2 linked regions of the Homo sapiens genome follow. The protein of the gene in region 2 interacts with the protein of the main gene of each other region in a biochemical or structural test. Each region holds a gene or a part of one and is shown on either strand. Other genes may lie near its edges.

Region 1 (7,022 bases), on a different chromosome or scaffold from region 2:
GCACTCCTAACACCGTTTTCTGTGTACAGTGCAGAATTGCTAACTCGGCGGTGTTTACAGCAGGTTGCTTGAAATGCTGCGTCTTGCGTGACTGGAAGTCCCTACCCATCGAACGGCAGCTGCCTCACACCTGCTGCGGCTCAGGTGGACCACGCCGAGTCAGATAAGCGTCATGCAACCCAGTTTTGCTTTTTGTGCTCCAGCTTCCTTCGTTGAGGAGAGTTTGAGTTCTCTGATCAGGACTCTGCCTGTCATTGCTGTTCTCTGACTTCAGATGAGGTCACAATCTGCCCCTGGCTTATGCAGGGAGTGAGGCGTGGTCCCCGGGTGTCCCTGTCACGTGCAGGGTGAGTGAGGCGTTGCCCCCAGGTGTCCCTGTCACGTGTAGGGTGAGTGAGGCGCGGCCCCCGGGTGTCCCTGTCCCGTGCAGCGTGATTGAGGTGTGGCCCCCGGGTGTCCCTGTCCCGTGCAGGGTGAGTGAGGCACTGTCCCCGGGTGTCCCTGTCACGTGCAGGGTGAGTGAGGCGCGGTCCCCGGGTGTCCCTGTCACGTGTAGGGTGAGTGAGGCACTGTCCCCGGGTGTCCCTCTCAGGTGTAGGGTGAGTGAGGCGCCGTCCCCGGGTGTCCCTGTCACGTGTAGGGTGAGTGAGGCGTGGTCCCCGGGTGTCCCTGTCCCGTGCAGGGTGAGTGAGGCGCTGTCCCCGGGTGTCCCTGTCACGTGCAGGGTGAGTGAGGCGCGGTCCCCGGGTGTCCCTGTCACGTGTAGGGTGAGTGAGGCACCGTCCCTGGGTGTCCCTCCCAGGTGTAGGGTGAGTGAGGCGCTGTCCCCGGGTGTCCCTCTCAGGTGTAGGGTGAGTGAGGCGCGGCCCCAGGTGTCCCTGTCACGTGTAGGGTGAGTGAGGCACCGTCCCTGGGTGTCCCTCCCAGGTATAGGGTGAGTGAGGCACTGTCCCCGGGTGTCCCTGTCACGTGCAGGGTGAGTGAGGCGCGGTCCCCAGGTGTCCCTGTCACGTGTAGGGTGAGTGAGGCACTGTCCCCGGGTGTCCCTGTCCCGTGCAGGGTGAGTGAGGCGCGGTCCCCAGGTGTCCCTGTCCCGTGCAGGGTGAGTGAGGCGCCGTCCCCGGGTGTCCCTGTCACGTGCAGGGTGAGTGAGGCACGGCCCCCGGGTGTCCCTGTCACGTGCAGGGTGAGTGAGGCGCGGCCCCCGGGTGTCCCTGTCACGTGCAGGGTGAGTGAGGCGCGGCCCCCGGGTGTCCCTGTCACGTGCAGGGTGAGTGAGGCGCGGTCCCCGGGTGTCCCTGTCACGTGCAGGGTGAGTGAGGCGCGGTCCCCGGGTGTCCCTGTCACGTGCAGGGTGAGTGAGGCGCGGTCCCCGGGTGTCCCTGTCACGTGCAGGGTGAGTGAGGCACGGTCCCCGGGTGTCCCTGTCCCGTGTAGGGTGAGTGAGGCACTGTCCCCGGGTGTCCCTGTCACGTTCAGGGTGAGTGAGGCGCGGTCCCCGGGTGTCCCTGTCACGTGTAGGGTGAGTGAGGCACCGTCCCCGGGTGTCCCTGTCACGTGCAGGGTGAGTGAGGCGCTGTCCCCGGGTGTCCCTGTCACGTGCAGGGTGATTGACGCGAGGCCCCCGGGTGTCCCTGTCACGTGCAGGGTGAGTGAGGCGCCGTCCCCGCGTGTCCCTGTCACGTGCAGGGTGAGTGAGGCGCCGTCCCCGGGTGTCCCTGTCACGTGTAGGGTGAGTGAGGTGCCGTCCCCGGGTGTCCCTGTCACGTGTAGGGTGAGTGAGGCGCCGTCCCCGGGTGTCCCTGTCACGTTCAGGGTGAGTGAGGCACGGCCCCCGGGTGTCCCTGTCACGTGTAGGGTGAGTGAGGCGCGGTCCCCGGGTGTCACTGTCACGTGTAGGGTGAGTGAGGCACTGTCCCCGGGTGTCCCTGTCACGTGTAGGGTGAGTGAGGCGCGGCCCCCGGGTGTCCCTGTCACGTGCAGGGTGAGTGAGGCGCGGCCCCCGGGTGTCCCTGTCACGTGTAGGGTGAGTGAGGCGCGGCCCCCGGGTGTCCCTGTCACGTGCAGGGTGAGTGAGGCGCGGCCCCCGGGTGTCCCTGTCACGTGCAGGGTGAGTGAGGCGCGGCCCCCGGGTGTCCCTGTCACGTGCAGGGTGAGTGAGGCACGGCCCCCGGGTGTCCCTGTCACGTGCAGGGTGAGTGAGGCGCGGCCCCCGGGTGTCCCTGTCACTTGCAGGGTGAGTGAGGCACTGTCCCCGGGTGTCCCTGTCACGTTCAGGGTGAGTGAGGCGCGGTCCCCGGGTGTCCCTGTCACGTGTAGGGTGAATGAGGCACTGTCCCCGGGTGTCCCTGTCACGTGCAGGGTGAGTGAGGCGCCGTCCCCGGGTGTCCCTGTCACGTGCAGGGTGATTGACGCGAGGCCCCCGGGTGTCCCTGTCACGTGCAGGGTGAGTGAGGCGCCGTCCCCGCGTGTCCCTGTCACGTGCAGGGTGAGTGAGGCGCCGTCCCCGGGTGTCCCTGTCACGTGTAGGGTGAGTGAGGCGCCGTCCCCGGGTGTCCCTGTCACGTGTAGGGTGAGTGAGGCGCCGTCCCCGGGTGTCCCTGTCACGTGTAGGGTGAGTGAGGCGCCGTCCCCGGGTGTCCCTGTCACGTGTAGGGTGAGTGAGGCGCCGTCCCCGGGTGTCCCTGTCACGTGCAGGGTGAGTGAGGCCCCGTCCCCGGGTGTCCCTGTCACGTGTAGGGTGAGTGAGGCACTGTCCCCGGGTGTCTCTGTCACGTGTAGGGTGAGTGAGGCGCCGTCCCTGGGTGTCCCTCTCAGGTGTAGGGTGAGTGAGGCGCCATCCCCGGGTGTCCCTGTCACGTGTAGGGTGAGTGAGGCGCCGTCCCCGGGTGTCCCTGTCACGTGTAGGGTGAGTGAGTTGCGGCCCCCGGGTGTCCCTCTCAGGTGCAGGGTGAGTGAGGCGCTGTCCCTGGGTGTCCCTGTCTCGTGTAGGGTGAGTGAGGCTCTGTCCCCAGGTGTCCTTGGCGTTTGCTCACTTGAGCTTGCTCCTGAATGTTTGCTCTTTCTATAGCCACAGCTGCGCCGGTTGCCCATTGCCTGGGTAGATGGTGCAGGCGCAGTGCTGGTCCCCAAGCCTATCTTTTCTGATGCTCGGCTCTTCTTGGTCACCTCTCCGTTCCATTTTGCTACGGGGACACGGGACTGCAGGCTCTCGCCTCCCGCGTGCCAGGCACTGCAGCCACAGCTTCAGGTCCGCTTGCCTCTGTTGGGCCTGGCTTGCTCACCACGTGCCCGCCACATGCATGCTGCCAATACTCCTCTCCCAGCTTGTCTCATGCCGAGGCTGGACTCTGGGCTGCCTGTGTCTGCTGCCACGTGTTGCTGGAGACATCCCAGAAAGGGTTCTCTGTGCCCTGAAGGAAAGCAAGTCACCCCAGCCCCCTCACTTGTCCTGTTTTCTCCCAAGCTGCCCCTCTGCTTGGCCCCCTTGGGTGGGTGGCAACGCTTGTCACCTTATTCTGGGCACCTGCCGCTCATTGCTTAGGCTGGGCTCTGCCTCCAGTCGCCCCCTCACATGGATTGACGTCCAGCCACAGGTTGGAGTGTCTCTGTCTGTCTCCTGCTCTGAGACCCACGTGGAGGGCCGGTGTCTCCGCCAGCCTTCGTCAGACTTCCCTCTTGGGTCTTAGTTTTGAATTTCACTGATTTACCTCTGACGTTTCTATCTCTCCATTGTATGCTTTTTCTTGGTTTATTCTTTCATTCCTTTTCTAGCTTCTTAGTTTAGTCATGCCTTTCCCTCTAAGTGCTGCCTTACCTGCACCCTGTGTTTTGATGTGAAGTAATCTCAACATCAGCCACTTTCAAGTGTTCTTAAAATACTTCAAAGTGTTAATACTTCTTTTAAGTATTCTTATTCTGTGATTTTTTTCTTTGTGCACGCTGTGTTTTGACGTGAAATCATTTTGATATCAGTGACTTTTAAGTATTCTTTAGCTTATTCTGTGATTTCTTTGAGCAGTGAGTTATTTGAACACTGTTTATGTTCAAGATATGTAGAGTATCAAGATACGTAGAGTATTTTAAGTTATCATTTTATTATTGATTTCTAACTCAGTTGTGTAGTGGTCTGTATAATACCAATTATTTGAAGTTTGCGGAGCCTTGCTTTGTGATCTAGTGTGTGCATGGTTTCCAGAACTGTCCATTGTAAATTTGACATCCTGTCAATAGTGGGCATGCATGTTCACTATATCCAGCTTATTAAGGTCCAGTGCAAAGCTTCTGTCTCCTTCTAGATGCATGAAATTCCAAGAAGGAGGCCATAGTCCCTCACCTGGGGGATGGGTCTGTTCATTTCTTCTCGTTTGGTAGCATTTATGTGAGGCATTGTTAGGTGCATGCACGTGGTAGAATTTTTATCTTCCTGATGAGTGAATCTTTTGGAGACTTCTATGTCTCTAGTAATCTAGTAATTCTTTTTTTAAATTGCTCTTAGTACTGCCACACTGGGCTTCTTTTGATTAGTATTTTCCTGCTGTGTCTGTTTTCTGCCTTTAATTTATATATATATATATATATTTTTTTTTTTTGAGACAGAGTCTTGGTCTGTCGCCCAGGGTGAGTGCAGTGGTGTGATCACAGGTCAGTGTAACTTTTACCTTCTGGCCTGAGCCGTCCTCTCACCTCAGCCTCCTGAATAGCTGGAACTGCAGACACGCACCGCTACACCTGGCTAATTTTTAAATTTTTTCTGGAGACAGGGTCTTGCTGTGTTGCCCAGGCTGGTCTCAAACTCTTGGACTCAAGGGATCCATCTACCTCGGCTTCCCAAAGTGCTGAATTACAGGCATGAGCCACCATGTCTGGCCTAATTTTCAACACTTTTATATTCTTATAGTGTGGGTATGTCCTGTTAACAGCATGTAGGTGAATTTCCAATCCAGTCTGACAGTCGTTGTTTAACTGGATAACCTGATTTATTTTCATTTTTTTGTCACTAGAGACCCGCCTGGTGCACTCTGATTCTCCACTTGCCTGTTGCATGTCCTCGTTCCCTTGTTTCTCACCACCTCTTGGGTTGCCATGTGCGTTTCCTGCCGAGTGTGTGTTGATCCTCTCGTTGCCTCCTGGTCACTGGGCATTTGCTTTTATTTCTCTTTGCTTAGTGTTACCCCCTGATCTTTTTATTGTCGTTGTTTGCTTTTGTTTATTGAGACAGTCTCACTCTGTCACCCAGGCTGGAGTGTAATGGCACAATCTCGGCTCACTGCAACCTCTGCCTCCTCGGTTCAAGCAGTTCTCATTCCTCAACCTCATGAGTAGCTGGGATTACAGGCGCCCACCACCACGCCTGGCTAATTTTTGTATTTTTAGTAGAGATAGGCTTTCACCATGTTGGCCAGGCTGGTCTCAAACTCCTGACCTCAAGTGATCTGCCCGCCTTGGCCTCCCACAGTGCTGGGATTACAGGTGCAAGCCACCGTGCCCGGCATACCTTGATCTTTTAAAATGAAGTCTGAAACATTGCTACCCTTGTCCTGAGCAATAAGACCCTTAGTGTATTTTAGCTCTGGCCACCCCCCAGCCTGTGTGCTGTTTTCCCTGCTGACTTAGTTCTATCTCAGGCATCTTGACACCCCCACAAGCTAAGCATTATTAATATTGTTTTCCGTGTTGAGTGTTTCTGTAGCTTTGCCCCCGCCCTGCTTTTCCTCCTTTGTTCCCCGTCTGTCTTCTGTCTCAGGCCCGCCGTCTGGGGTCCCCTTCCTTGTCCTTTGCGTGGTTCTTCTGTCTTGTTATTGCTGGTAAACCCCAGCTTTACCTGTGCTGGCCTCCATGGCATCTAGCGACGTCCGGGGACCTCTGCTTATGATGCACAGATGAAGATGTGGAGACTCACGAGGAGGGCGGTCATCTTGGCCCGTGAGTGTCTGGAGCACCACGTGGCCAGCGTTCCTTAGCCAGTGAGTGACAGCAACGTCCGCTCGGCCTGGGTTCAGCCTGGAAAACCCCAGGCATGTCGGGGTCTGGTGGCTCCGCGGTGTCGAGTTTGAAATCGCGCAAACCTGCGGTGTGGCGCCAGCTCTGACGGTGCTGCCTGGCGGGGGAGTGTCTGCTTCCTCCCTTCTGCTTGGGAACCAGGACAAAGGATGAGGCTCCGAGCCGTTGTCGCCCAACAGGAGCATGACGTGAGCCATGTGGATAATTTTAAAATTTCTAGGCTGGGCGCGGTGGCTCACGCCTGTAATCCCAGCACTTTGGGAGGCCAAGGCGGGTGGATCACGAGGTCAGGAGGTCGAGACCATCCTGGCCAACATGATGAAACCCCATCTGTACTAAAAACACAAAAATTAGCTGGGCGTGGTGGCGGGTGCCTGTAATCCCAGCTACTCGGGAGGCTGAGGCAGGAGAATTGCTTGAACCTGGGAGTTGGAAGTTGCAGTGAGCCGACATTGCACCACTGCACTCCAGCCTGGCAACACAGCGAGACTCTGTCTCAAAAAAAAAAAAAAAAAAAAAAATTCTAGTAGCCACATTAAAAAAGTAAAAAAGAAAAGGTGAAATTAATGTAATAATAGATTTTACTGAAGCCCAGCATGTCCACACCTCATCATTTTAGGGTGTTATTGGTGGGAGCATCACTCACAGGACATTTGACATTTTTTGAGCTTTGTCTGCGGGATCCCGTGTGTAGGTCCCGTGCGTGGCCATCTCGGCCTGGACCTGCTGGGCTTCCCATGGCCATGGCTGTTGTACCAGATGGTGCAGGTCCGGGATGAGGTCGCCAGGCCCTCAGTGAGCTGGATGTGCAGTGTCCGGATGGTGCACGTCTGGGATGAGGTCGCCAGGCCCTGCTGTGAGCTGGATGTGTGGTGTCTGGATGGTGCAGGTCAGGGGTGAGGTCTCCAGGCCCTCGGTGAGCTGGAGGTATGGAGTCCGGATGATGCAGGTCCGGGGTGAGGTCGCCAGGCCCTGCTGTGAGCTGGATGTGTGGTGTCTGGATGGTGCAGGTCAGGGGT
Region 2 (7,984 bases):
AATCCCCTCACAACTAGGTGTTTGAAATGGTGATTTTTACCCAGCTTACTTAGGTAAACATCTTAAATTTTGTCCCTCCAGTGACTGGATTTGCAAAATAGAGTGAACAATCACCACCTTAAATTATTAATAGAAATAAATAGGATATAAAATTGTTCAATAAGAGGTGGGAAAAGTTTTGACCAAAAATTCTGCCTTGAAGGGAATGCTGGCATTTCCTCTCAATTAACAACCATAACTTCTGGTAGGAAGAAATGGAGAAGGAACAAGGAGGCCTACAAGAGGAAGGCAAAGGTCGAGGCAATTTGTGGCTAAAAGAGAACAGTCTCTGAGATTCAACCTCTTAGTTCTCAAAGGTTTGCCCATATGCACAAATTACAAGGGTAAGGTGCACATTTACAAAGCTGCAAGTTTATAGTCACTTCCAAGTGAAGCTTTTTGATCTTCAATTCACTTGAAACTTACCCAACACTCTATGTATGACCTCTTGTATTTGTCTTCTACTGTTTTTTTTTTTTTTCCTTTGTGGTGAGGGAGGGAGGACAGGGCCTCACTCTGTCACCCACGCTGCAGTGCAGTGGTACAATCATGGCTCATTGCAGCCTGGACCTCCTGGGACCAAGCGATCCGTCCTTACACCTCGGCCTCCCATAGCTGGGACTTCTTGTATTTTTGTAGACACCTGGGTTTCGTCATGTTGTCTAGGCTGGTCTTGAACTCCTGGGCTCAAGGCATCCTCCTGCCTTGGGCTCCCAAAGTGCTGGGATTACAGGTGTGAGCTACTGCACCCGGCCTTCTACTATTTTTAAACTTGCAATATTTCTTTTTAACATGTTTTATACCCCCAAGTAACATGTCTTATACCCTCAAGTAAGCTCTTTGAGGGAAATGGCTTTATCATGTGCCTGCCCCCCATTCCTCACTGTGAAGTGAAGCTCACAAGGCTCTGTTAATCCACTGAATCTTTGACTCCTCCACTCTTTTGGAATGCCCCTGGGATATGTGTTCTGTAAATGGACACTCAACATGTTTATAGTGAAAATCTAATGGCCGAGAGCCCAGCCACTGTAAACACATTCTTTCTACTTTTGCAGGTCTGCACTCTAATGACAAAAGATTGCTTAGATTTAGAGAAGAAAACGCGTGGATTTCTTCTACAGTGTTACAAGTATTTAAAGCCAGCAACGAAAATTCTTGGAATTTTATGCTGCATCACGATGCGCGGCCCTGGGTGATCTAGCCTTCCAGTTCTTCGTGCAAAGCTGAATACCAGCTTTTAACCACCACCATACCCAACCCGCACCCCAAGCACTGGCACTTGAAGCCGAGTTGTGGTCATACATCACCATCCACACTCCCAGGCTGTAAACCCAATGCAAACCTGGGGCTTCTCAGTGGGACAGGCCTACAAGGAGAGGAGAGGTGCCTCGTGAGGAGGAGCCACCGCAGTAAGCAGTCAGAGCCCCCTTCCCCAGACTCCCCCTTCCAAGGGCAACCCGAAATAGCAGAAACGCTTTTATATGTGGGCAGAGCCGCATGCCCACGAGACAGGCACATGTGGACTGCGGGCATTCGGTACAAGGAAGCGAGGACACAGAGTACGTAGGGTGCTGAGGGTCCACCTCGCAGCCAAAGTATGTGTGCCAGTGAGTGTGTGCAGCTTGTGAGATCTGCTCTAGAAACCGTGGCCGCGGACTGGCGCGGCCTCCTGGGCGAAGCACAAACAGGAGGCTTTGTTCCCTGAATGTGAGAATGAGGGAGCCGAGCTGGGCGCAAAGACGGCGGCGTTCCGCGGCGGGAAACCGTCGTCTCCGCCGCGGCTCGGGCAGCGCGCGAAACTCTCAATCAGGTTCCCCGGCCCGGGCCGCCGGCTATGCCAGCGGCGCGCAGTGGGGACAGCCTAGCTGTCTCGCGAGCAGCGCCCGGAGAGGCCGCGCCGCGGGCCCCGCCGCGTCCCTCCGCCAGCGCGGGCGGCCCCACGCGCCCGCCACTCGGCAGCGCAGCCAGCGCCACATTCCATTTAAAAATAACACCCACGTGCGCTGGTAAACAAGCGCGCGCGGCTACCAGGGCCGCGCGCCCCGGCCCAGTGTGTGTGGCGCGCGCCCGCCCTCCTCCCGCACGTGTCGGCCGGCGCCATTCAGTCCCCGCCCCCTCGGCGGGTCGCGCCCCGCCCCCGAGCCCCCAGCCCCGCCGCTCCGGGCCCTAGCGCCCCCTACCCCGCCAGGCGCGCCCAGTCGAGTGCGCTGCAACTTTCCTCCCCCGACGCCTCCTCTTCGCTGGCAGACCCACCGCCCCAAGTCGGCTGCCTTCCTCCCGTCCGCTGTCCTCTCGCGTCCCCCCTTGAACCCTCCCACCGCCAGCGCGCGAAGGATTGGTTTCTAGTGCGCCCTCTCCCTTTTTCCCTCTCCTCTCTCTCCTTCCTTAGAATTTTACTCGATTGTTTATTATTTGCTGGGGGGCGGGGGCGGGGGGGCGGAGAGGGGCGTCTGGGGCCTGGAGACTGGTGGCCGCGGCCAGTCAGCGCGCGGCGTGCCTTGACGAGTAAGCGGCGCAGCGAATGGCGACGCGGCGGAGAGCTCCGGGGTCACGCGCGTGTGGATACGATGACATCATCTGTTTGTACGCGTCGAACTAGCTTGGTGCAGGGGCGGGGCCGCGCGTCACTTGAGTGACGGGCGCTGCGCAAAGCCCGGAGCCCGGAGGCGGCTGGGCGGGCTGGCTCTTGCGTACGCTGGGCTGGACCTTTTTGTGTATGGGGTCGTTGAGGAGCCCGCTTCTACACTCTGAGCTATCTCCGGTGACTTACAAGGATTTTTTAAAAAATATATTTATGAACTAGTGTGTAGACTTTTGGTGTGCATGTCGCGTGTGGTGCATTCGTAGAGTACAAATAAACGATTTGGGGCACGGATCGTAGAATAAGGACTTGTGCAGATGTTTTTCGTTTAACCTAAAGGATACGTCTTTTTTTAAAAGTCAAAAATGCCCACGTAGCGGTTTTGTCGTCATTTACAAATTAGATTAAAATTATTTCCCCTTCTCAGTTGTTCGGAATCTGCTCTTGAATGTAGGACGGGGGTAAATTTGCATTTCTTCCGGAGTTAGTTACACCTCTCCCCCGTTTGCCATGAAACCCATGAAAAGTGAAACACGACTGTGGTCCACCGTCCGAGGTGAGAGACTCAGTGCAAACCTTTTGGTGCCTGATCGAATCTGTGAGCATCAGCTTATCGAAGTTGTGCAGGCACCAACATCTTCGCCGTTCAGTATTTCCACACCGCGATAACCCTGCCCATCTTGCGGCCAGCATCTTATCTCGGGTGTTACCTGGTGTCGCGTTCTAACAGGGAACCGGACACCGGGGCTGGCCCAGAGCCCGGCGGGCGGACGCGCAGGCCAGGGACCCCCTGGTACCAGGCGCCCTGCCCGGAGTCAGGGAGGCCACGCCGCTGCGCTCCTTGGAGCGTCGGGGGCTGTGCGCTCCTGCCGCTCCCCCTTCTCCCTCCTCTCCCCACTTCTTCCTCCTCTCCTCCCTTCTCCCCCCTTCTCCCTCCTCTCCCGGGCCAGCGCCGCGCTTTGTTGTCGTTGAGACTCTCGGGAGGGAGGAGGAGCCCAGCGGGGACAGCAGCGGGAGCCCGCCGAGTCCCGGCCCACGGCGCGCGCCCGGACACCCACGCCCGCAGCCCCGCGGAGCCGGGCCGCGCAGGCGCGCGCGAGCTCACACACGCGCACTCACACACGCACGCCCGCCGCGCGCCCGGCCCGCCGCCCAGCCCGCCGCCCAGCCCTCCCCCTGGGCGGGGACCCGCCCGCCGTCAGCCTAGGTTGAGGCGCCCTGCGTGTGTCTATAACTTTGTGCTGCTGCCGCGGCCGCCCTGCTCGTGGAAGGGAGGAGGAGGAATGTGGAAGGTGGCGGCGCGCGAGCTGACAGGCGGTTCCTCGGGCGGGCTGCGGCGACGGCCCGAGCGCTTCTCCTTCGCCGAGGTTGCGCGCCCCCTCCTCGCCGTGCCCCGGGCCCGCGCGGGATCGTGCGTCGTCCCGCCGCGTCCCTGAAGGGAAGGAAGCGAGGTAGGCGCCGGAGCCGTGCAGCGGGCGGCCGCCTTCCCGGTGACTCCGGATCTGCTTCCGAGCTGGGCCGGGCGCTTCCCTTTCCCCTCCCTGAGCCGCGGTGTGCGCGCCCCCCTTCTCGCCCGCTAGTGTTTTTAAAGGACTCGGGAAGGGGGAAACTGTCAAGATGGCAGCAGCGGGAGCAAGGAGGTGATGAACGTGCTGGTCCGGGTTTTCTAGCAGCCCGGGAGACTTGGCGCTTCCCGACCTGTTGGAAGATTTATGTTCCGACTCGCTCCCTCCCCCGGATCCCGACTGGGAAGGGGGCGGAGGGGACGACGTCCGCGAGAATGCAAACCACACAAAACCCCGAAGTGGCCGTCCCCGCCGGGCTCGAACCTCTGCGAACACCCGCTGGGCTGCTGCTCCCCCTTCTTTCTGTCTTTCCTTTATTTTTTGGAAGTGACAAGGGCCCATCTGCGCCCAGACCCCCGTTCGCCCTCTGGCCCGCGGGCGAAGAGGGGAGAGGGAGCTGCCCGCGCAGTCCCCGGGCTCGGGCCATTCGACCGGGTGGGGGGTGACGGGGGGTCGCGGAGGCGGCCAGGCTAGGAAAGGGGAGAAGAGCCGAAGACAGCACAGACTTGAGCGGCGGCGCCGCGGGAGGCACTAGAGCGGGCCCGAGCGAAACATAAACAAACGCACGCACACCCGAGCTCGGGCTCTGACCGCGGCTCGGCTGCGCCAGCTCCGGCCGCTGCCCGCTTTAAAGGCGCGGCCGCCCCTCCCCCGGGCGCCCCTCCCCCTTCTCCCCGCCCCGCCGCCTAGCCCGGGAGGGACCTGCGGCTGGGCGGCGGGGGGAGGGGGCTGCCCCGCGCGAGGCCGTCGATTCGCTCGCGGCTCCATCGCGGCCTGGCCGGGGGGCGGTGTCTGCTGCGCCAGGTTCGCTGGCCGCACGTCTTCAGGTCCTCCTGTTCCTGGGAGGCGGGCGCGGCAGGACTGGGAGGTGGCGGCAGCGGGCGAGGACTCGCCGAGGACGGGGCTCCGGCCCGGGATAACCAACTCTCCTTCTCTCTTCTTTGGTGCTTCCCCAGGCGGCGGCGGCGGCGCCCGGGAGCCGGAGCCTTCGCGGCGTCCACGTCCCTCCCCCGCTGCACCCCGCCCCGGCGCGAGAGGAGAGCGCGAGAGCCCCAGCCGCGGGCGGGCGGGCGGCGAAGATGGCAGAGGCACCGGCTTCCCCGGCCCCGCTCTCTCCGCTCGAAGTGGAGCTGGACCCGGAGTTCGAGCCCCAGAGCCGTCCGCGATCCTGTACGTGGCCCCTGCAAAGGCCGGAGCTCCAAGCGAGCCCTGCCAAGCCCTCGGGGGAGACGGCCGCCGACTCCATGATCCCCGAGGAGGAGGACGATGAAGACGACGAGGACGGCGGGGGACGGGCCGGCTCGGCCATGGCGATCGGCGGCGGCGGCGGGAGCGGCACGCTGGGCTCCGGGCTGCTCCTTGAGGACTCGGCCCGGGTGCTGGCACCCGGAGGGCAAGACCCCGGGTCTGGGCCAGCCACCGCGGCGGGCGGGCTGAGCGGGGGTACACAGGCGCTGCTGCAGCCTCAGCAACCGCTGCCACCGCCGCAGCCGGGGGCGGCTGGGGGCTCCGGGCAGCCGAGGAAATGTTCGTCGCGGCGGAACGCCTGGGGAAACCTGTCCTACGCGGACCTGATCACCCGCGCCATCGAGAGCTCCCCGGACAAACGGCTCACTCTGTCCCAGATCTACGAGTGGATGGTGCGTTGCGTGCCCTACTTCAAGGATAAGGGCGACAGCAACAGCTCTGCCGGCTGGAAGGTGCGTACCCACCCCGGGCTGGCAGCAGGACCCGCCGGGCCTCCTGCGCAGCGCGAGACGCGTCTCGGATTCGTCGGAGTGCGCTTGCGGGCTCCAGGGCAAGGGGTTGGCAGGGGGAGCCTCCGCTGCGAGGCTTTGGGGGTTATCTTTGATCCCCGGAGTCGGGGCACCTGGGGACGGTCTCGGAGGGGTGAATGAGGCTCCCCAGAAGCTTGGGGCATGGCCAGGTGAGGAGAGGGGGCAGGGGACGCCGGCGAGGGAAGGGCGAACGGACAGGAGTACATTTGCTGGATTCTCCGGACAGCACCGAGGAGGTAGGTCCGCAGCCAACTTTGGAGTAGAGTTTACCGTAGTGGGGGTCTGGTGCGGGCGCTGTGGCTGGAGTGAGAGGTGTGGGGGTGTTTGGGACGCAGTGTCTGGAGGAGGGGTTGGATGTGTGGTTTCCAGTCTGTCGCAGGAGCATGTTGCGTCGTCACTAGCTGAATGAGAACCTTCGGGTCCAAGTTTCAGCTTGTGGGTGTTAACACCTACAGGCACATCGATCCGATTAGAAAAAGCAGTGGTTGCAAACCTTTTCCTGGACGGCTTCCTTTCCTTGCCTATATTGATACCTTTTCTTCTCGGAGATGTCGCTCCAGTAAACCTGCTTCTGACTAGCTGCTTCTGAAATGTTCTGGGGCCTCGAACCGGCCGGTCTGGCCACCTCAATCCAGACTGGCTGCACCCGCTGCTCCCGCCGAGGCCTGGATTCAGGCACTGTTTGAGGGAAGGGCTCTGGTGTGGGGGACGCGGGGCCTGCGCTTCATTCACTCTGGCGTTTGGGAGGAGGTTTGGGGGCTGGGCCGGGCCGTAATGGCTTCTACCTGTAAATGAACCCGAAGAGAGACTCTCTACCGTTCCTTATCATCCTCTTGGGGCACGGGACACGTGGTAGGGAGAGAGGTGTGGAAAGGCCTATGATGTAATGACTTCCTGCAGTTGGGTATCCAAAGAGATTAACTCCTCTGCCCCTGCTGGGCTGCTGATATCCAGCTGCTTTCCTCTTCCTAGGCACCTCCCTGGCCCCTTCCCCCAAGACAGTGTGTGTCAGTACCAGGCCAAAGAGTCCTGTGCGATTGGAGATATACATCTCTTATCAGCTGCCCATATTTGCAATTTAGCTTAGATTTTTTTTTGTTTTGTTTTATGTAAAAGAAGTAGTTGCTTCCTCCTTCCCTTTCTTCATTGTCATTGGGGAGCCCTCTGTCTTCCTGGGTTTCAGGAGGTATAAAAATAAGAACAGTTTAATCTTAGTGGAGAATTCAATGGAAGCACTGGAGACGAGCCTGTAGATGAAAAAGTTAAAGAACTTAATGTAGAGAATGTTTTATTTTGCTTCTAGAAAACCCTTGCAAAGTTAAATACGGCTTATATCAGAGAGGCTTTGTATTAGATACTTTAAAAGCAAAACACGTGTGCTTTGATATTAATCCACTAATGTGTCTCATTTCTTTTAACAAATGCTTACATTATGAGTCTTATATTTGGTTTAATTCAATTGCTTTGTAAAAGAATGCCAGGTGTATGATACGAGAGTTCTTTACAGAAAGGATGAAAGTTAGACAATTCCATTTGAAAAGAGCACTAGTGTGATATGTTTTAAAACTGGGTTTCCAAGTGGATGGGAAGGGTTAATCAGTGTATAGTATCAGGAAGGCGTAAGCGGACAGGATCTGAGAACATGGATTTGGGGGTTCGAAATGTTTTTCAGATTTCTCTCACTTGAAATTTAGTCTTGCATGTTTGAATTTGGTGAGGAGAATACGTTAGTGAAAAGTTAGTTAACTTTAAACTTAGTTAAAACGTTAACGTAGGAAGGCGTTTTCACCTTTCCTGTGATTTTTAAGGTTACAAAAATAATTTAATTTCACAAATATTTCTTGTTATTTTGTTTATAGTTAAATATAATAAGTTTAATGAACTTTATTTTTGGGGGGAAGATTTACATGAGATAATGGTATTACCAAAAGTAGCCGCGAATTGAGATTGGGCTAGATACATTTTCATATAGTTTGTAGGACTTGCAATACAGATTTTGGGACTAGTCATAAACTTTATGG

Evidence for each region. Proteins that work in one complex are often made in the same cells at the same time.
Region 1: the proteins of FOXO3 (region 2) and TERT form a complex in vitro, tested with the Homo sapiens proteins (one study listed by BioGRID).

What each region holds. Positions count from the first base shown.
Region 1 is NC_000005.10:1,285,068-1,292,089, reverse strand, and holds part of TERT (telomerase reverse transcriptase), read left to right. Parts: intron 1-7,022. UniProt on the Homo sapiens protein: Telomerase is a ribonucleoprotein enzyme essential for the replication of chromosome termini in most eukaryotes. Active in progenitor and cancer cells. Inactive, or very low activity, in normal somatic cells.
Region 2 is NC_000006.12:108,555,945-108,563,928, forward strand, and holds the start of FOXO3 (forkhead box protein O3), read left to right. Parts: upstream 1-4,972; 5' UTR 4,973-5,264; coding exon 5,265-5,885; exon of another isoform or gene 5,886-6,079; coding exon of another isoform or gene 6,080-6,199; intron 6,200-7,984. UniProt on the Homo sapiens protein: Transcriptional activator that recognizes and binds to the DNA sequence 5'-[AG]TAAA[TC]A-3' and regulates different processes, such as apoptosis and autophagy.